Linked DNA regions of Homo sapiens. The protein of the gene in region 1 interacts with the protein of each later gene in a biochemical or structural test. Each region holds a gene or a part of one and is shown in the gene's direction. Other genes may lie near its edges.

The links. Proteins that work in one complex are often made in the same cells at the same time.
Region 2: of the proteins of PKP4 (region 1) and PTPRC, one has a biochemical effect on the other in vitro, tested with the Homo sapiens proteins (one large-scale study listed by IntAct).

What each region holds. Positions count from the first base shown.
Region 1 is NC_000002.12:158,624,121-158,628,107, forward strand, and holds part of PKP4 (plakophilin-4), read left to right. Parts: intron 1-757; coding exon 758-1,307; intron 1,308-3,987. UniProt on the Homo sapiens protein: Plays a role as a regulator of Rho activity during cytokinesis. May play a role in junctional plaques.
Region 2 is NC_000001.11:198,645,242-198,649,228, forward strand, and holds part of PTPRC (receptor-type tyrosine-protein phosphatase C isoform 1 precursor), read left to right. Parts: intron 1-3,987. UniProt on the Homo sapiens protein: Protein tyrosine-protein phosphatase required for T-cell activation through the antigen receptor. Acts as a positive regulator of T-cell coactivation upon binding to DPP4.

The sequences.
Region 1 (3,987 bases):
TTTTTGCATCTCTTTAAATCCACCAATTAAAGCTAAGAACTCATAGATCAGAAGAGGTAAAAAGAAATGGCTAAAGTGAGAAGCTATGCTTGATCTAAAGGAATCAACAAATTTGCCTAGAGCACCTGTGTAGCCAAGCTGTTCCCCGAAGTAAATTCACAGTGGAGAGCGCCAGACCCACACTTGATCCAAATGTTCATTTATTCCACAATGAAAGAACATGTTCCTTTTGTTAATGGGACCAACCCATAAAGAAAAACAATGATAAATATTCCACTAGCTACATTTAGACTGATATATTCAAATTATATTCAAATTTTTGTTTTACATAAATGCATTGCCTTGGCCAAACTTTGCTTCATAGGGAATGAAGTAAGTACATTGTTCTGGTGCCCCTTCACGCTCATGAATTACATGTAACACTTAGAATAAAACATTTTATGTGCTGTGAAAAATGCATAGGCAATAGTTAAAAATGTAAAGATAAAAAAGGAGTATTAAATGTCTTCAGATCTCTTTTTACAGGTTAATTTTAGCATTTGGTTTAAACCACCAAAAAAAAAAAAAAAAACTAAAACAACTAAAGCACCGTGAGGAAAAATTAATGTCTGGCTCAAAGCATAAAAAGGAAAAGAATCTTAGATGCCTAAAATAGTGGATTCACATTCTGTAGTGAGCTATGTGTATTTCTTTTGTAATGGCAATGAACACAAAACCCTGGATAAACCCATTCTCTTTTTTCCCCCCCTTTCATCAGCCATCAGTAGCCAATCGGGCCATGAGAAGAGTTAGTTCAGTTCCATCTAGAGCACAGTCTCCTTCTTATGTTATCAGCACAGGCGTGTCTCCTTCAAGGGGGTCTCTGAGAACTTCTCTGGGTAGTGGATTTGGCTCTCCGTCAGTGACCGACCCCCGACCTCTGAACCCCAGTGCATATTCCTCCACCACATTACCTGCTGCACGGGCAGCCTCTCCGTACTCACAGAGACCCGCCTCCCCAACAGCTATACGGCGGATTGGGTCAGTCACCTCCCGGCAGACCTCCAATCCCAACGGACCAACCCCTCAATACCAAACCACCGCCAGAGTGGGGTCCCCACTGACCCTGACGGATGCACAGACTCGAGTAGCTTCCCCATCCCAAGGCCAGGTGGGGTCGTCGTCCCCCAAACGCTCAGGGATGACCGCCGTACCACAGCATCTGGGACCTTCACTGCAAAGGACTGTTCATGACATGGAGCAATTCGGACAGCAGCAGTATGACATTTATGAGAGGATGGTTCCACCCAGGCCAGACAGCCTGACAGGTGCGTACAAGGTGACAGTGCTACATAAAACCCAGTGAGGAAATCTTCTGTGTAACTTAAGTTGAAACAAAGAATGAAAAGGTGGAAAAGGCTCATTCGTGTTTTTAATCTCAGATTTTAAACTATAAACTTAAGGTTAACTTGTCTTTCAGGTTCTGTAATTCTTAATACATGAAATTATATACATTTATATCAATAGAATCCTTTTGCAATGGATATAACTCTTTTGTAATATTTTCCCACTAAATATTAGGGTTTAAAATGTGCTTTTTTTGCATTTCATAAGTATTAGTTGCAATTCTAAGCAGTTGACTAATTTTTTTTAATGAAATATTTTTTACCAGCCAGGCCTACCCCTAAACATACCCTAAAGTTATGTTAAAAGGTGGTATCAGAATATCTGTTTAAATGTTTAAATTTTTTCTTTAGAAATGCTTTGGTAATATAGACTAGACTATGAATTTTATCCCCTACTTGATTTTGGCATTTTAACGGTAAATGCACAAAGCGCTTATGAATCACTTTTACATGCCACTCCTATTAAAGCAGAAAGACACCGGGTCCCTAATACAGCTGTTCCAACTTCAGGGTTTTTCGTGGAGGGTTTCCTACATGGTGTAAAGATTTGGTTATTTTAAATAAAATGCAATTTAACTTTAGTGTTTTAAATTATATTTTAAAAGTAACATATACAGAATGGTAAAAATTAAAACTATATGGGAAAATATTGAAATAAGTGAAAGCCTTTTACCCTCACCCAGTCCCATCACAGTTGATGTGGCTTTCAGAATGTTTCTTTGCATTTACAAATATATGCAATCCATGCAAATCTGCACACACATTGTGTTTTCTATTGATGGAATTCTATCATATAGATCTTCTATACTTTGTTCTTTTCACTAACTATGTCTTAAGAGCTCTACCTCATTCTTAATAGATGCATGGGACCCATTTTTTATAGATATATCATAATTTATTTGCATTTTCCTCCTAATGGACAGTTAGGTTGTTTGTTATGTTTAGCTGTTAGAGATGATGTAGTACATACATTGTTCTCCCTGCATATTTCACATAAGTACTAGGGTAACTGGGATCCAGTAGAATTGCTGCATCAAAATATATGTGTATTTTTACTTTGAGAGATATTACGTAGAATTGCCTTCTAAGAAGGTTACACACGGATTTATATTTCTGCCAGTAGTTTGAGTGCCTGTTTGTCTATACCTTGTCTACACTGCACTAGTGCTGCATATTCCAAGTTTTTCATCTTTGCCAATCTGATAGGTAAAAAGCTGTACCTCATTGTTTTTAAGGGCTTTTATTGAGTTATGACTGAGGTTGAAGATTTAATCTGTTCATCAACGACTTTATTTCATTTTGTGAAACTACAAGTTCTTTTGTCTATTTTTATAATTCGTGAAAGCTTTTTTTTACTAGAGATAAGCTAGCACCTCGTAATATGCTTCTCAAGTATTTTTTCCATTTTGTCACTTCTTTTTATTTCATTTTGGTTTTAATTTACAAAACTGTTTAACATTCTTACATAGTAAAATTAGTATCTTTTTTATGTCTTCTAAGAAAATTTAAGCCTTTTTGAGATTTTTGTGATTGAATAATTTTGCCTGGAGAATTTATATTGAACTTGATTTTTGAGCTCAAAGAAATTCTTAGTGGAGAAACCACCTCTTTTTCATTCATCTATCCAAGAAGTGTGCTTGACTTAGATATTTTCTGAAATGCCTCTGAAAAGTATGCAGCAAAATGATGTAGGAATCATTTATGAAATTCTACCTCCCAAGGAAATCTTAGAAAATAAATAGTTCTGAGGACTTCCATATTCCCCCGTGTGTATAGAACAGCTATGTAGAAATCTCTGCTTGTAAGAGAGTAGAGAGGAGACTGGAGGAAGGAAGCCAGCATATAAATTATTGTCTCCATATTTAACCCTAAGAGGACTCATTTCCTCTGGTTTAAACAGTCTGTTTCTCTGACAATGCAGGTAAAATTAGACTTTATGTCTTGGGGGGAAAATATATATAATGTCTATTTTTTAGGCCCAGCCTCTCAGTGATTTTTTTCTAGAAATACTGCAGTGTTCTCAAGAAGCAAAGTGTTCTTGATTTCAAAGGACTAATAGCCTGCTAATTGATAAGCAATGTTTTGTACTACATTCAGGGACTTGGGTATTTGATGATCATAATTTAAATGATACAAACTACAGAAATATATATATATATACTCTAAAATGTTCATTTCAGAATAATCATGGCATGTAAAGAAAACTTTTGAGGAGATAAAGAATTGATCTTTGAAAGATAAATTTATGTTTATTTCTAATGCCATAAATATAAATATTTTTAATCACATGGAATCACCGTAATAATAGCTAAACTAATATGTTTGTGGAATTGCAAATAGAAAGTATTGGTTGGATAAATAATGCAGTGGCGTATCAGTGTTTTCCATTATTTGGAAGGGGAAGTAATGTTATTAAAAATTAATCAGTGGAAATGCTTCTGAAAAAATTATTTTTTATTTATTTTTATTTATTTTTATTTTTTTATTTTTTTTTGAGACGGAGTTTCGCTCTGTCACCAGGCTGGAGTACAGTGGCACGCTCTCGGCTCACTGCAACTTCCGCCTCCCGGGTTCAAGCGATTCTTCTGCCTCAGCCTCCCGA
Region 2 (3,987 bases), on another chromosome or scaffold:
AGATAGTTTAGAGAAACCTATACAAATAACAATGATGCTAAGAGACAATATCAAAATCACAATAAATATCATGGCAATACAGTGTGGCCACTATATTTTAAACACATCCACTTGATGAAAAATATAATAATTTACTGATAAAACATATTAAGCATAATAGAAAATGAGGCAGAAACCACTCCAAGCTGGGAAACATCATGACATCTGTAGTGATAAATATTTTGAAAATCTAACTCTATGAATCTTGTGATTTTTAGCTAAATCAATTTTCACCCTTGAGACCCAATTTCCTCATCTATAAAGTGTTGTAAGCATTAAAAGTTATAATATTTGTGAAAATGCTTTGAAATTATGTGATACTCTGAGAAGTAAATTTTTTCATGTGAGCCCATGAAATCAGAGCACATAGCCTTTTAGCATAAACTTGATTCCAAATGATATCTCTTCCTTTCAGACACTGTGAGCAGATAAAGGGATAGTTTAAGGTTAAGTGATAGAGGCATAATCCCTTATAGGCCTTTGAATTCTTTTAACTTTGCATTCTTTATTTCAGAGATTTTTCAGGCTTCTCCAGATTCTACAGTCTAAATAGTTTGTAAATCCACACACTTCTACTTTGCCAGGGATTTCTTAGTGTAAAAATATCCTGAAGTCTCACCTGCCTTCAATCCTTACTGTGTCCATACCCACCATTACCAGGATAATCTTTGTAAAAGGCAGAACTTACCTTTGTCCATTCCTCTTTTAAAAGCTCCTATTGGTAGAAAATATACTGAACCCGTGATTTGATACCAAGTATGTTTTGGCTCAACTTTTATGAAAACAAATATTTAATTAGAATATACCAACATTTATGAGTTTTCCTTAAAGATAAATTTTGGAGGAAAAAAACTCCATTAGACCAATTTAATTCCCTGATGATTATATATATATTACCTAGTGAAATCCTTGGCAGTTTTTCCATTTTAATTTTAATTTTACTGAACTAATGTTTAGCAGCATCACTTTCATTTAATTTTTACAATAACTATTAGATTCATGAATCCATTTTACCCATGTCAAGTTCTACTGAATATAGCTTATGCTTGGAATTTTCCTTTGTGATTATTACTTTTCTAAAGGTAATTCTTCTTTTCAAACAATACAGATCTAAATTTTCCAAAACCATTTAAATTCTTCTCTTTGGCCAGAAACATTTTCTGTGTGTAGTTTTGGCTACCGCTAGTTTAGTTTTTTTAATTGGTTTTGTGTCTCAATGCTACAAAAAATATAATTTATGTAATTTTTCATTTTTGTCAAACTTAAATCGGGCAATATTAACCATTCTCAATTTTTTGTTGTGTTGAAATTTCTATCAGTGACATTAATGTGGAGATTGACAGCTCTTTGAGCTAGATTCATTTTGAAATTTTAAGACTTTCGATTATTTCTTATCTAGCCAATAGAAACTTTAGAAACACTTTTAAGACTGCTTGATAGCCTGGAATTATTATGTTTGAATTCTCATTCATTTGTATGGTATTCCTCTTATTAGCTTTCACACTTAGTACCAATTTCTTATTCATTATTGGAGCAAAAAGTAAAGAGAAGAATCAAGGTGATAAGTTTAAAATCTTCTCAATGTAAAATAGTGTGTGGGGAAAGTGTCAAATCATCCTACTTTGGTCTTTGTGCATTTAGGAAAAATAAAAGCAATTAGCATTGCACACACATATGTAATTGAATCTCTTCAGATTTGTCTGGCTTTATCTCTAACCACTTTGTGACTCTTTTTGTAACTTGCATTTTTCTAAAAATGTGACCTTGTTTGGTCTTCCTACTGTTGGCCATGCTGTTTTTCCTTCTCTCCACATCTTTTTATCAATGGTGCAAATTATAAATTGTATTCAAATTTACTGTAAAGATCATGTCCTCTAGACAGCCCCTATCCCACTTGTATAACCCTTGCTCTTCAGCCCCTTTCACACCTGCATAGGTATTCTTCTGCTGTGATGATCCTTTGAATAATTCTCTTGGAGTTCTCTTTACCAGGCTCTCTTGCAGCAACTGGTGAGCTCATGTAGGCTATCACTGGGTCTCTGCTTATTTGCCAGTGCCTGCAGGTCCTCAGTACCTGTTTGCTGAACAAACGAATGGTCTGTCAGCTTAACCCAACTCTGTATGTAGAAGGCACTTAATAATTCTTAAAAACAATTTTGATTCTGTCCTTTTATTGTTATTTATGGGAATTATTTATGGTAAAAATTTCTACATAATAGAAAATTTGGAAAATGTCAAGAAATAGAAGGAAAAAGAAATTGCTTAGAGCCCATGCTAACATTTTGTTTTTCTTCCTCTATCTTTTGATCACATGCTGTGTATGAAATTTCATGTTCAATTTTTTCCCAAGTAAACCTTGATTATTCTAGACAATTTGAAAAATATAGAAATGAATAGAAAAATAAGAATTTCAGGTTTCCAGTTCTCAGGATCTAAAAACTTTTTGAGTATTTCATTTGACTAGGACAACTAGATCTATTCAGTTATTTATTAACTTATTAGTTCATTTGATAAACAACTATTTTGTGAGTGTTTTCCATGTAATTTGGGCTGAGGACACCTATCCCATGAAGCCCGTATTTTCTATCAGTGGCTTCTTGGAGATGGTGTTTTAAATCTTCCAAAATCTTCATCAGCACCCCAAAACTTCCTCCTCAAAGTAACAACATACCTTGCTACAGATAATTATTGGTGTTATCAATGTTTTATAAATTATAAATTTAAAAATCACTATCTTAAGATCTATATATAACATATTAAGTAAAACTTATATTCTTACAAGACTTCCTCCAGGTCCCTGTTACAACCAGATTTTCTTTGCAGACTTTTAAATTATGGAAGTTCTGGTGCTGCCACTGAGTTGTGTAGATTATTATTAGATATTCAATAAATAAAGTTGGTAGATGTGAAGAGGTACTAGACAATAGTCCTATTTTGTTTTGGTTTGTTTGTTTTGTAATTTATTCTGAAAAAATGTTTATGTGGAGAGAAAAGGGAAAACATACAGAAATACACAGCACACAAACAAATTCTTACTTTTTTTTGGTAGTCTTTCTAATTTTCCAAGGTCACCAGCTAATAGCAAATGAGAGTTGTAGGGGGTGGGGTGAAGGCTGGGGTCTTAATCGGGGTCTATCTGATTCTAGATAGACCAGATTCTAGATTTTCCACTCGGTTACTCAATCTTCTTAGTGGTCAGTTTAATAACCTGGAATTTAAGACATGACTGTGTGATGATGGGCAAATCACAGCAGGACTGAATGGGAGCTGGTAATTTCTCAGAGGTTGTTTGTGTGACATATGCATGTAAGTTCATTCACCTGATTTAGCTACTTACATGAACCATTGTGCACTGAGCTGCTTCTATATCTTTAGCATATTCTGTATCTATGTAAAATTCACATAAGATTGTATGACTTTTATAAAAAACAAAAAGACATCTTTGATTAATTTGTCTTCACTATGAATACTGATGTGATGTGTTACAATCATCCTGAAAAGGAGGCTAACAAAGGACAGGACTGAGTCTGTCTTGAGGTGAGTGATATGATGGAAAGAATGGATTTTCCCCCACCCAACTCATTTTTGATATTACATAAAGTGAAAAACATTAAATAATTCACCAAAGTATCTAGATTTTTTTTTGTTTTTGAAGTGCAAGGGAAGTAACTTGACCTTTGTTAAACACTTTGATCATGGAAAACACATAAGGTTCTCATCTTATTCCAGGAAGTGTAGACACTAGATAATCTTTTCATAGTCATCCAAAAAGCATATTAAGTGAACCAGGTAAATCCATCCTACACTTTTTATTCCAGAGACAAGTTGGCTAAACTTTGAGGAGACTAAAACAAAACAAAAAAAAATTATTGTTTGGTTCATTTGATAAATGTGGATTCCAATCATATAATTTAGGCCAAATATTATACTTTGACTTCTTAGACTTAG